4 separate regions of the Homo sapiens genome follow, and regions 1, 2 and 4 are each linked to region 3. The links come from fine-mapping of genetic effects on gene expression. A gene starts in region 3. Each other region holds a variant in brackets. All regions are shown on one strand. Distances are from middle to middle.

What was found.
Region 1: its variant is fine-mapped to the expression of NEK4 in whole blood (TOPMed, PIP above 0.99).
Region 2: its variant is fine-mapped to the expression of NEK4 in lymphoblastoid cells (CAP, PIP 0.95). The same link has a PIP of 0.9 or more in lymphoblastoid cells after a statin.
Region 4: its variant is fine-mapped to the expression of NEK4 in lymphoblastoid cells (GTEx, PIP 0.99).

The regions. Positions count from the first base shown.
Region 1 is chr3:52,608,881-52,611,568 of GRCh38, reverse strand. It overlaps PBRM1 (polybromo 1), which reads left to right. Exons shown (of 32, transcript NM_001405607.1): 18 at 1,614-2,256. Among named protein-coding and RNA genes, the nearest start is that of UQCC5, 74 kb to the right of the region's middle. The variant T/C (reference allele first, on the strand shown) is at 1,609.
Region 2 is chr3:52,581,993-52,584,680 of GRCh38, reverse strand. The region is part of intron 22 of PBRM1 (polybromo 1); the gene reads left to right. Among named protein-coding and RNA genes, the nearest start is that of UQCC5, 47 kb to the right of the region's middle. The variant G/TG (reference allele first, on the strand shown) is at 1,585.
Region 3 is chr3:52,769,899-52,772,586 of GRCh38, reverse strand. It overlaps NEK4 (NIMA related kinase 4), which reads left to right and starts at 1,647. Exons shown (of 16, transcript NM_003157.6): 1 at 1,647-1,933. The coding sequence starts at 1,841. RefSeq lists enhancers at 1,516-1,565, 1,353-1,870 and a silencer at 1,726-1,835.
Region 4 is chr3:52,475,414-52,478,101 of GRCh38, reverse strand. It overlaps NISCH (nischarin), which reads right to left. Exons shown (of 21, transcript NM_007184.4): 8 at 1,503-1,655; 9 at 460-528; 10 at 1-5. Among named protein-coding and RNA genes, the nearest start is that of STAB1, 19 kb to the left of the region's middle. The variant G/A (reference allele first, on the strand shown) is at 1,578.

The sequences.
Region 1 (2,688 bases), 160 kb after region 3:
GCCTCCCATAGTACTAGTATTGCAGGCATGAGCCACAGCTCCTGGCCCACTATGTTGTACTTTCATGTGTTCCTCTGTCCTTTGTATTTCCTATAAATTGGTAGTTGGAGCCAGAGGCTTGATCAGATTGAGGTCTGATCCCCTGTTCTCTCCCTTAGGCAGAAAAACCGACTTCATAGGTAATATATGGTCTTCCATCAGGTACATGTGAAATCTATTTATGGCTTTCTGTTAACAGGTGTTGTTGCATACTTCATTAATTATTAATTCATGAAAGGGATGTAAAATTGTGATAGTTTTTAATTTTATTCCTTATTAGCTATAGAGAAACTTTGCCTTATCTAATATTTGATTAGCCAGTGGTACAGTGTTTTTTTTGTGTGTGTCTTGCTTTTTGAAAGGATAAAGGCTTGATTTTTGTTTTATTTTGTTTTCACCTTTACCAGTTTTCAAAATATGTATTGGTTTACTAACATCCTTCAATATTTACCCATTTTGTTGTTTGTTTGTACGTATTATTAAGAACTACCAGACTTAAACATATGGCTGAGTTGTAATTGAAGTTATTGTCCTTATTGATACTCAGGCTGGTTCAGGCTCGTTCCTGTATTCTTTTTGTTTTGTTTTTTTGAGACAGAGTCTCGCTCTGTCGCCCAGGCTAGAGTGTAATGGCTTGATCTCAGCTCACTGCAACCTCTACCTCCTGGGTTCAAGCAATTATCCTGCCTCAGCCTCCCGAGTAACTGGGATTACAGGCGCCACCACCACACTCGGCTAATTTTTTGTATTTTTAATGGACACAGGGTTTCGCCATGTTGGCCAGGTTGATCTTGAACTCCTGACCTCAGGTGATCCACCCACCTTGGCCTCCCAAAGTGTTGGGATTACAGGCATGAGCCACCACGCCCAGCCGGTTCCTATATTCTATTGACATGAAGTCATGGTAAGAAGTCATTGATAGATTCTTTACTGTCTAGTGTTTGAAGATATACCAGACTGGGAATCAGCCATTTACCAAGGAGCCCTACCTTTTTCATGTTTCTGCTGAAAGGTGAGGGCTCCTCAACATTACTATTTGGAATTAGTATTTTAAAACTCTAATGTGGGCTATACTGCTACTGAGGTAGTCATTGTTTGTACGATTTTCAGTGGACAGAGCTAGGAAATTTGTGTGTTTGTTTGTATGTTTATATTTAAAGATAAATTACATCATAAGTTCATAGTGATACTTTCAATTGAGATTAAAGGCCTCAAGGTAATTATTAATGTCCTACGTTTTAACATCCGTTATCTCTTTTTATCCCATGATGAAAATCTCAGTTCTCCAGGATACCAGAGGTGATAGAATGTCACATAGCTACTCATTTGCTTTATTCCTTCTTATTCACAGCTTTCTCAACCTTACAGTAGTCTCCCATCAAAAATATAATTACTGAAAACAGTTAAAAAAAATTTTTAGTACTTTTTTGTCTGCAGGTTATATTTCACTATAGACATGCTAATTGCTAGATTTTACAAATTACTTGGAATCGTCCCTTGTGGTTATGCTACCATCTGTATACAAATTTAGGTTCATTTATTTTATTCATTTAACATTAAATATCTCTC[T/C]TTAGGTAGGAAGAGTGGCATTTCTCCTAAAAAATCAAAATACATGACTCCAATGCAGCAGAAACTAAATGAGGTCTATGAAGCTGTAAAGAACTATACTGATAAGAGGGGTCGCCGCCTCAGTGCCATATTTCTGAGGCTTCCCTCTAGATCTGAGTTGCCTGACTACTATCTGACTATTAAAAAGCCCATGGACATGGAAAAAATTCGAAGTCACATGATGGCCAACAAGTACCAAGATATTGACTCTATGGTTGAGGACTTTGTCATGATGTTTAATAATGCCTGTACATACAATGAGCCGGAGTCTTTGATCTACAAAGATGCTCTTGTTCTACACAAAGTCCTGCTTGAAACACGCAGAGACCTGGAGGGAGATGAGGACTCTCATGTCCCAAATGTGACTTTGCTGATTCAAGAGCTTATCCACAATCTTTTTGTGTCAGTCATGAGTCATCAGGATGATGAGGGAAGATGCTACAGCGATTCTTTAGCAGAAATTCCTGCTGTGGATCCCAACTTTCCTAACAAACCACCCCTTACATTTGACATAATTAGGAAGAATGTTGAAAATAATCGCTACCGTCGGCTTGATTTATTTCAAGAGCATATGTTTGAAGTATTGGAACGAGCAAGAAGGATGAATCGGTATGTTTTCAAAGCCATTTTTATTTTGAGGATATGTGCTATTTAATACAAAACAGATGAAAGAATATTGCTTTGATGTACTATTTCCACTTACATACATGATTTGTAGTTGGTAGCATGCTATTCTGAATTCTAATCAGCCAGAACTTCTTAAGAGTGAGTATATTCTGTGGGGGAGAGAAGGCACACCACTAAGTCATCTAGTTTAAGGCCAGTGAGGAGGAAGACAAAATTGAAAATCTCTTGAAAAGCATAAACTTAAAATACAGCCTTTCATAGAATGTGTTTTTTAAAAAGATAAATGTTTCTAATTGGAAATAGTAACAGCGTTTTTCTTTTAAGGTTTGGCTTCAGTGCACGAATGCTTTAAATAAAATAGCTCTAAGGTGTTGTCCTGAGGTTAGACTGATAGAAATTTGATCACCATTTTAA
Region 2 (2,688 bases), 190 kb after region 3:
ATTTTGAGACTAGCCTGGGAATCATGGTGAAACCCCATCTCTACAAAAAGTACAAAAATTAGCCAGGCATGGTAGCACATGCCTGTAGACCCAACCACTTGGATGGCTGAGATGGGGGTATCCCATGAGCCCAGGAGGTAGAGGCTGCAGTAAATTGTGATTGCACCACTGCACTCTAGCCTGGTCAACAGAGCAAGACCGTCTCAAAAAAAAAAAAAAAAAAAAAAAAAGCAAGAATACTTTTCTGCAGATAATTGGGGGAAATTAACTGAAAAGGTTGGAAACAGAAAATTTAGCAAATAGAAATTTCAAAATCCATATGTAAATGAATAGTCTTCATATATAAACTAGTAAGACTTTTGAAAGTAAAGTGAAAGTGTTGAATACACTTTAGCAACTGTTAGAAAAATCTTATGGGAGAAAATATCCATTTCACACTAACAACAAATTAAGAAATAACCTTAACAAGGAATATATAGAACCTCTAGGAAAAAAATTTACTGAAGGACATAAAAGACTTGCATAGATTGTTTTTGAAACTTGACAAAATTATTCTAGCATTCTTATTAAGAATAAATATGTGACAGTCACCAGAAAACAAGGGGGAAAAAGGGGTATGAAAGAGAGCTTTGCCCTTTGATAGTGAACTGAGGGATTTTTTTAAATTTAAAAATTAGAACTTTGCCCTGCCAGATGTATTACATTTTATAAAACTACAGTTAAAAAACAAAATTAAAACCCAGTACAGTGTCACACGCCTGTAATCCCAGCATTTTGGGATGCCAAGACAAGTGGATCAGTTGAAGCCAGGAGTTCCAGACCACCCTGGGCAACATAGCAAGACCTTGTCTCTACAGAAGATTTTTAGAATTTTATTTAATTTAGAAAAACAGTAATTTACCTATAATTTTTTTTCAATAATAAACTTGGAATAGACGAGGATTTTCTGTTCATTATATAAAACCATTGATCATTTTATTGATTTATGATTGAAAATACAAGGTTAATAAAACAGTCTAGGGTTACTGTTTCTAATATACAAAGAGCTCTTTAGGGTCTAGGGGGGAAAGTAGGACTACAAAAATGAGCAGAGGCCCAAATAGATAATTTACGGAAAGAAGGCAGCAAAAAACATGTATTAGTTAACCTAATAGTTTGTATAATACCTAACAGGATGGCAAGAGTTGAAAAGACTGATAATATGTGTAGCCTGGTATAGGATGAGACCACACACACTTTTCTCCTATTGGTGTTTTTTTTTTTGTTTTTTTTTAGATGGAGTCTCACTGTTGCCCAGGCTGAAGTGCGGTAGCGTGATCTCAGCTCACTGTAACGTCCGCCTTCCTGGGTTCAAGTGATTCTGCTGCCTCACCCTCCTGAGTGGCTGGGATTGCAGGTGTGCACCACCGCACCTAGCTAATTTTTGTATTTTTAGTAGAGACAGGGTTTCACCATGTTGGCCAGGCTGGTCACAAACTCCTGACCTCTGATGATCCGCCTGCCTCGGCCTCCCAAAGTGCTAGTATTACAGGTGTGAGCCACCGCCCCCGCCCCTATTAGTTTTTTTTTTTTTTTTTTTTTTTT[G/TG]AGATGGAGTCTCACTCTGTCCCCAAGGCTGGAGTGCATTGGCGTGATCTCAGCTCACTGCAAGCTCCATCTTCGGGGTTCACACCATTCTCCTGCCTCAGCCTCCTGAGTAGCTGGGACTACAGGCGCTCACCACCACGCCCGTCTAATTTTTTGTATTTTTAGTAGAGACGGGGTTTCATCGTGTTAGCCAGGATGGTCTCGATCTCCTGACCTCATGATCCGCCCGCCTCGGCCTCCCAAAGTACTGGGATTACAGGCGTGAGCCACCGTGCCCGGCCCGGTGTCTTTGACCCAGCAGTTTGATGGCAAAGAATATGCTCCAATGGTAGTACTCAAACAGGTGCTCCGAAAGATTCTACGTAAGAGGCGACATCATGGGGCTGGGAAAGAATGTGATTTTTTATATTTTATCAGTATGGGAATGTGTTGGAATCATAAAATAATTTCTTTTAAAAGCAGAATTATCCGGTCGGGTGCAGTGGCTCACACCTGTAATCCCAGCACTTTGGGAGGCTGAGGAGGTTGGCGTGGTGGCAGGTGCCTATAATCCCAGTTACTTGGGAGGCTGAGGCAGGAGAATCACTTGAACCCAGTAGGTGGAGGCTGCAGTGAGCTGAGATCACGCCACTGCATTCCAGCCTAGGCAACAGAGCGAGACTCCGTCTGAAAAAAAAAAAAAAAAGAATTATCAATGGAAGTCAGCATGATAATTAACTTAGATTTCTTACCTGGTATTTAGAAGTCTCTAGGAACTCTCTGTATATGAGTTACTTGGTCTTTTTTGGTCTCATATCTTTATTTCAATATTATATGACCAAGACAGGTCATTCAGGAGCTTTTTTTTTTTTTTTTGAAACGGAGTCTCGCTCTGTCGCCCAGGCTGGAGTGCAGTGGCGCAATCTCAGCTCACTGCAGCCTCCACTTCCCAGGTTCAAGTGATTCTCCTGTCTTAGCCTCCTGAGTAGCTGGGACTACAGGCGTGTGCCACCATGCCCGGCTATTTTTGTATTTTTAGTAGAGACGGATTTCTACCATATTGGTCAAGCTGGTCTTGAACTCCTGACCTCAGGTGACCCACCCACCTCACCTTCCCAAAGTGCT
Region 3 (2,688 bases):
CACTTCCCAGACTCTAAGTGAGCCCCTGCATGCTCCCCTGCCTACTCCCTTATTCTTCCTTTGGAATGCCCAATCACCCCTGCGCAAATGGAATGGAGTTCAGCTGCTTCCCCTACTGTCAGTAGTTACTGAATAAAATCTATTTTCATCATTTTAATGCCTGGCTTTGTTTATCTTTAATAATATCATTAACTAGAGTTCAATCTTTATTTATGGTTCTTTTTGTTTGGTTTTCTAGTGAAGATGAAATTGCTTTGAGTAAAATGTGCAAATACTAAATGTACCATTAGATAATTTTGACAAATTCATACACCCAAATCTCCTATCAAGATATATATCAAGGATGAGGAGAAATTTGAACCCCTGTGGATTGCTAATGGGAATGTAAAATGGTTCAGCTTGCTGTAAAAAATGGTGTGGTGGTTTCTCAATACATTAAACTAGAATTAGCATATGATCCAGCAATTTCACTTCTGAGTGTATACCCAAATGAATTAAAAAGAAAGCAGGGACTCAAACAGATATTCGTACACCCATGTTCATAGCCGAATTATTCACAATAGCCAAAAGATGGAAGCTATCCGTGTCCATGACTGCATGAATGGATAAACAAATTGTGGTGTATACATATAATGGAATATTATTTGGCCATAAAAAGGAAAGAGGCCAGGCACGATGGCGCACACCTGTAATAACGGCATTTTGGGAGGCCAACGTGGGTGAATTGCTTGAGCCGAGGAGTTCAAGACCGGTCTGGGGAACATAGTGACACCCTGTCTCTGAAAAAAAATAAAATAGGATTAGCCAGGCATGGACGTGTGTGCCTGTAGTTGGGAGGATGGCTTGAGCCCAGGAAGTCTAGGCAGCAGTGAGCACCATTGCACCACTGCACTCCAAGCTGGGTGGCAGGGCGAGACCCTGTCTCAAAAAAAAAAAAAAAAAAAAAAAAGGAAAAAAAGGAAGCGCTCTGGGAAAGGGAGGCTTTGGCTGGAACAAATGGTGAATTCTTTTGGCACCCCTGAGCTTTCTTGGGCAGGCATTTTAAAGGGGCCTAGGCCCACCTAGAGATCCGCCCTTAGGCTGTTAACTTAGCATGATGCCATGTTAGAGTTTAGTCAAGTCTCTTAGTGCAGTGGTTAGGGTAGTCGTTAAATGCTGAGGAGTCTTTGTAGTTCTCAATTAGCAGGCGAGTTTTTAGGGATGAAAGGTACTGATAATTTACTTTGAATGTATCAAAAAATAGGATGGATTGCTGGATGCAGAGACGGCATGTGATAAAGCGGATACAGCAAATGTTACTGGTAGAGAGTCTGTCACCCAGTCATTAGAACATGAGCTCCAGGAGGGCAGGGACTTTGTTGGCCTGGCACATAGGCGGTCAACAAATATTTGCAGAATGAACGAACAATACTTGTAACGGCCTTAGGACAAACAAGTGCACAAAAAGAGGAAGCTTTCCCTGACTCTGTTGTGGCGGGGATCCGGACGGTGGAACGGACGCACAGAAAGTGCGCGGAGCCTGGCGGAGTCGCTCTGGCCTCCTGGAGCCTCTGCTCTATGGCGGGTCCTCCCGGGGCTGCGGAACCTCTCTGGCCGCTCGTGGCGTCCGCTCTATGGCCGTCCTTTGGGGACGCAGGAGCATGCGCAGAACTGCTCCCGGCCCGGATCGCTATGGCAGCGGCGTCGTCGCGGGCCGGGCCCCAGCAATCCCGCCCGGGCCCGGCTGCCTCAACAGCCGCCCCCACTGCCCCCTCTCGGGCATGAACCGAGCTTCTTGTTGCCGCCCGCTGCCCTACCCGCCGCTGCCGCCGCATCCCGACTCTGGGCCAGCGCTGGGAACATGCCCCTGGCCGCCTACTGCTACCTGCGGGTCGTGGGCAAGGGGAGCTATGGAGAGGTGACGCTTGTGAAGCACCGGCGGGACGGCAAGCAGGTCTGCAGGGGTGGGGCCCGGCAAGGGGCGGGGGCGGGCAGAAGTGCGCCGAGGGCGCCGACCGGTAGATTAGGTCGGGGGTGGTCGCAAGAGGCTCATCTCGGATGGCGTTTCCTCAGGGAAATGGTCCCAGACCAAGACGAGGCCTGGCCTCCCTGTAATATGCGCCCAGAACTACTTCTACTTCTTTGTTGTGTTAAATTTTTTTCCTTTTAATTTTCATTTTCTTTAATTACAATTCTAAGTTTTATGTAAAAATTTTCAGTCTCTGCCTATCTACTTCTTTGTTGTACTAATTGGCATGCGTGATCTACACACCTTTCTCCCAACCCCGATACTCTCATGAGAGCCGGTATCATGCATTCCCAGGACTTAATACAGCGCCTAGCAAGCATTATTCCTTGAATGAAGGGCCCCAAACGTCTCTACTGTAGACTGCTGGATTCACTTAAAACTCGACTCATTTTCTTCCCGCCAAACCTTCTCTCATGTCTTCCGTTTCAGTGAATAGTGACACCAACCCACCAGTTGCCCAAGCCGGACACCTGGAGTCATTTTTAAGCCTCCCCACGCACCCCAACACTGATTATATTCATCTATCACTAAGACAATAGGCCTCCTCTCATCTCTACTGCTACCACCCCAATCCAGGACACCCTGTTGTCTCTAGCAAAGCTATGGCCACGGTTTCCCAACTGGTCGCCGCCACTTGACTTGCTTTTCTCCAATCCATCACTTTCACTGCAGCCTCAGTG
Region 4 (2,688 bases), 290 kb after region 3:
AGGTGCTGCAGCGGCGTGGAGAACAGCGTAAAGTGGCTCAGGTCAAGTCTCCAAAGATAGGGGCCTGACACTAATGGCAGGATGGGCCTTCCAACCCAAACTACCCAGTTCTGCAAGTCACTCTGACAGTTATTTTAGGAAGGGAAGTCCCTCTTCTCTGCCGCACATGCCACAGCACAGTGGCACCCCTGCAGACAGTTGGGGTGGGCGTTGAAAACATGGCTGTCCACCTTCAGGACGGAGGTGCATCATCATGCCTGGTTTGTATTTACTCATGCTTCCTAATTCTTTGGAACTAGAGCAACAATCACTCAGTGCATTGCTGGGATCCTAAAGCGAAGACAGCAACCCCTGCCCTTACAACCCCTGGCCAATTCCCAAGGCTGCGTCAGTCTCCTGAAATCTCAGGGCGGGGCCTTGGGAGTGTGTGCGGGCAGCACTGGTCTCCAAAGGCACTACCTGCAGATTGTCCACAACCAGCAATCCATTGTGACTCAGGTCCAGGAACTCAATCTTTGGGATCAGTTTCTTGTGAAAGAAAAGAACACCCGATGTTACTGTAGGGGGCTGGACCCCAAACACGGTCCCCGACACAGTGGACGGGCACCCCAGGACGCTTCCTCCCGACCATGGACTCCCACGGGCCGTCCCTGCAGGACCACTGGTGGGACATCTCCCGCTGCCCAGCCAGTAGCACATCCAAAGGCACACACAGGGCCCCCAGTGCTGGGCACTACTCAGTTTTCATGGAACACTTGGCTTGTGAAAATGACACACAGCAAGGTCCCAGACAGAGAAGAGAGTCTGTTCTTCTTCAACCCTGCCCACACTCCCTGAGCAGCGCAAACACGGGAACGACACTCTTACTGCCCAAATGCCCTCTGGGTGTCATTCTTTCATGGGCACATCTGTCATCTAAGGAGTGATTTTTCTGCTCCACTCTTTGGAGCAAATGTCATCATTTAGTGTGTTATAGTTTACCAAATTTACATGAAATTATTATGTTTTATTTGGTTCTAAGTACTACCTCACCAATTTTAAATGATCCCATTTTTTTTTCTTCTTTTGAGACGGAGTCTCACTCTGTCGCCCAGGCTGGAATGCAGTGGCCCTATCTCAGCTCACTGCAACATCCGCCTCCCGGGTTCAAGCGATTCTCCTGCCTAAGCCTCCCAAAGTAGCTGGGATTACAGGTGTGCACCACCACACCCAGCTAATTTTTGTATTTTTAGTAGAGATGGGGTTTCACCACATTGGTCAGGCTGGTCTCGAACTCCTGACCTCAAGTGATCCTCCCGCCTCGGCCTCCCAAAGTGCTGGGATTACAGGTGTGACCCACCACGCCCAGCCCCCATTTTGTAATTAACTTAAAATGGCAGGCAATGCACAGAGCACTAGATATAGGTTTTCCGTGGTCCTTCCTAAAAAAGCTGAGTTAAATACTCAAACTCAGGGTTTGGTGGGGCCAGAGAAACCCCTGGCACCTGCTGCTGAGAGCATACCACAGACTCGTCGATCTCGGAGACGCTGTTGTGGCTCAGGTCAAGCGTGGTCAATGCCTGCCAAGTGGGGATGAC[G/A]GCAGTCACAGGGCCTTCTAGGGTTGTGCCTTCAGGCTCCCACTCATCAAATTCTGAGGCTTCAGGAACAAGGACTTCCTGCATAAAAACATCTGTGTGGAGCACCACACTCGGGCCCTCACGCAACACTCACTGGGAACACAGTCGTTGCAGAATTTAAGGAAGGGCTGGAGCATATTTAGCATGTGGAAGTAAACTTGCATTAAAGCATGCCTTTGGTTCCTATGTCTTTAAACGATTGTGAAATCGTTCAAAGCTGAACAATTTACCACATAACAGCCACTTAGAATTAAGTCCTGGCCCTGCTTTAGGAGCAATGCTTTTCAAGCCCAAAGGGCCTTTGCCCTGGTGACCTGGTGATGCCTTTTCTAGCCTTTTCTCTTTTTTGAGATGGAGTCTCGCTCTGTCACCCAGGCTGGAGTGCAGTGGCGCAATCTCAGTTCACTGCCACCTCTGCCTCGCAGGCTCAAGCCATCCTTCTGTCTTAGCCTCCCCAGTAGCTGGGACTAGAGGTGTGTACCACCATGCCTGGCTAATTTTTGCATTTTTAATAGAGATGGGGGCTTCACCATGTTGGCAAGGCTGGTCTCAAACTCCTGACTTCAGGTGATCCACCCACCTCAGCCTCCCAAAGTGCTGGGATTACAGACGTGAGCCACAGCGCCTAGCCGTTTTTTCTTTGAGACACAGTCTCACTCTGTCACCCAGGCTGGAGTACAGTGGCGCCATCATGGCTCACTGCAGCCTCAAACTCGCAGGCACAAGCAAATCCTCCCATCTCAGCCTCTTGAGTAGCTGGGACTACAGGCGTACACCACCTTGCCCAGCTAATTAAAAAATTTTTTTCTGTAGAAACGAGGTCTCCCTACATAGCCCAGACTGGTCTCAAACTCCTGGGCTCAAGTGATCCTCCTGCCTTGGCCTCCCAAAGTGCTGGGATTATAGGTGCAAGCCACTGCTACTGGCCAGCCAACCGTCTTTTCTAGCTTCTCAGAGGCTGAAGGTGAGAATTCAGTTTCCAGGCAGCTGTGCTTTCCAAGCTGATGATGTGGTCCTCACTGTGGACACCAGGCCTTTAAAACCATTATTTCACAGGAATAAAGTCAGACAA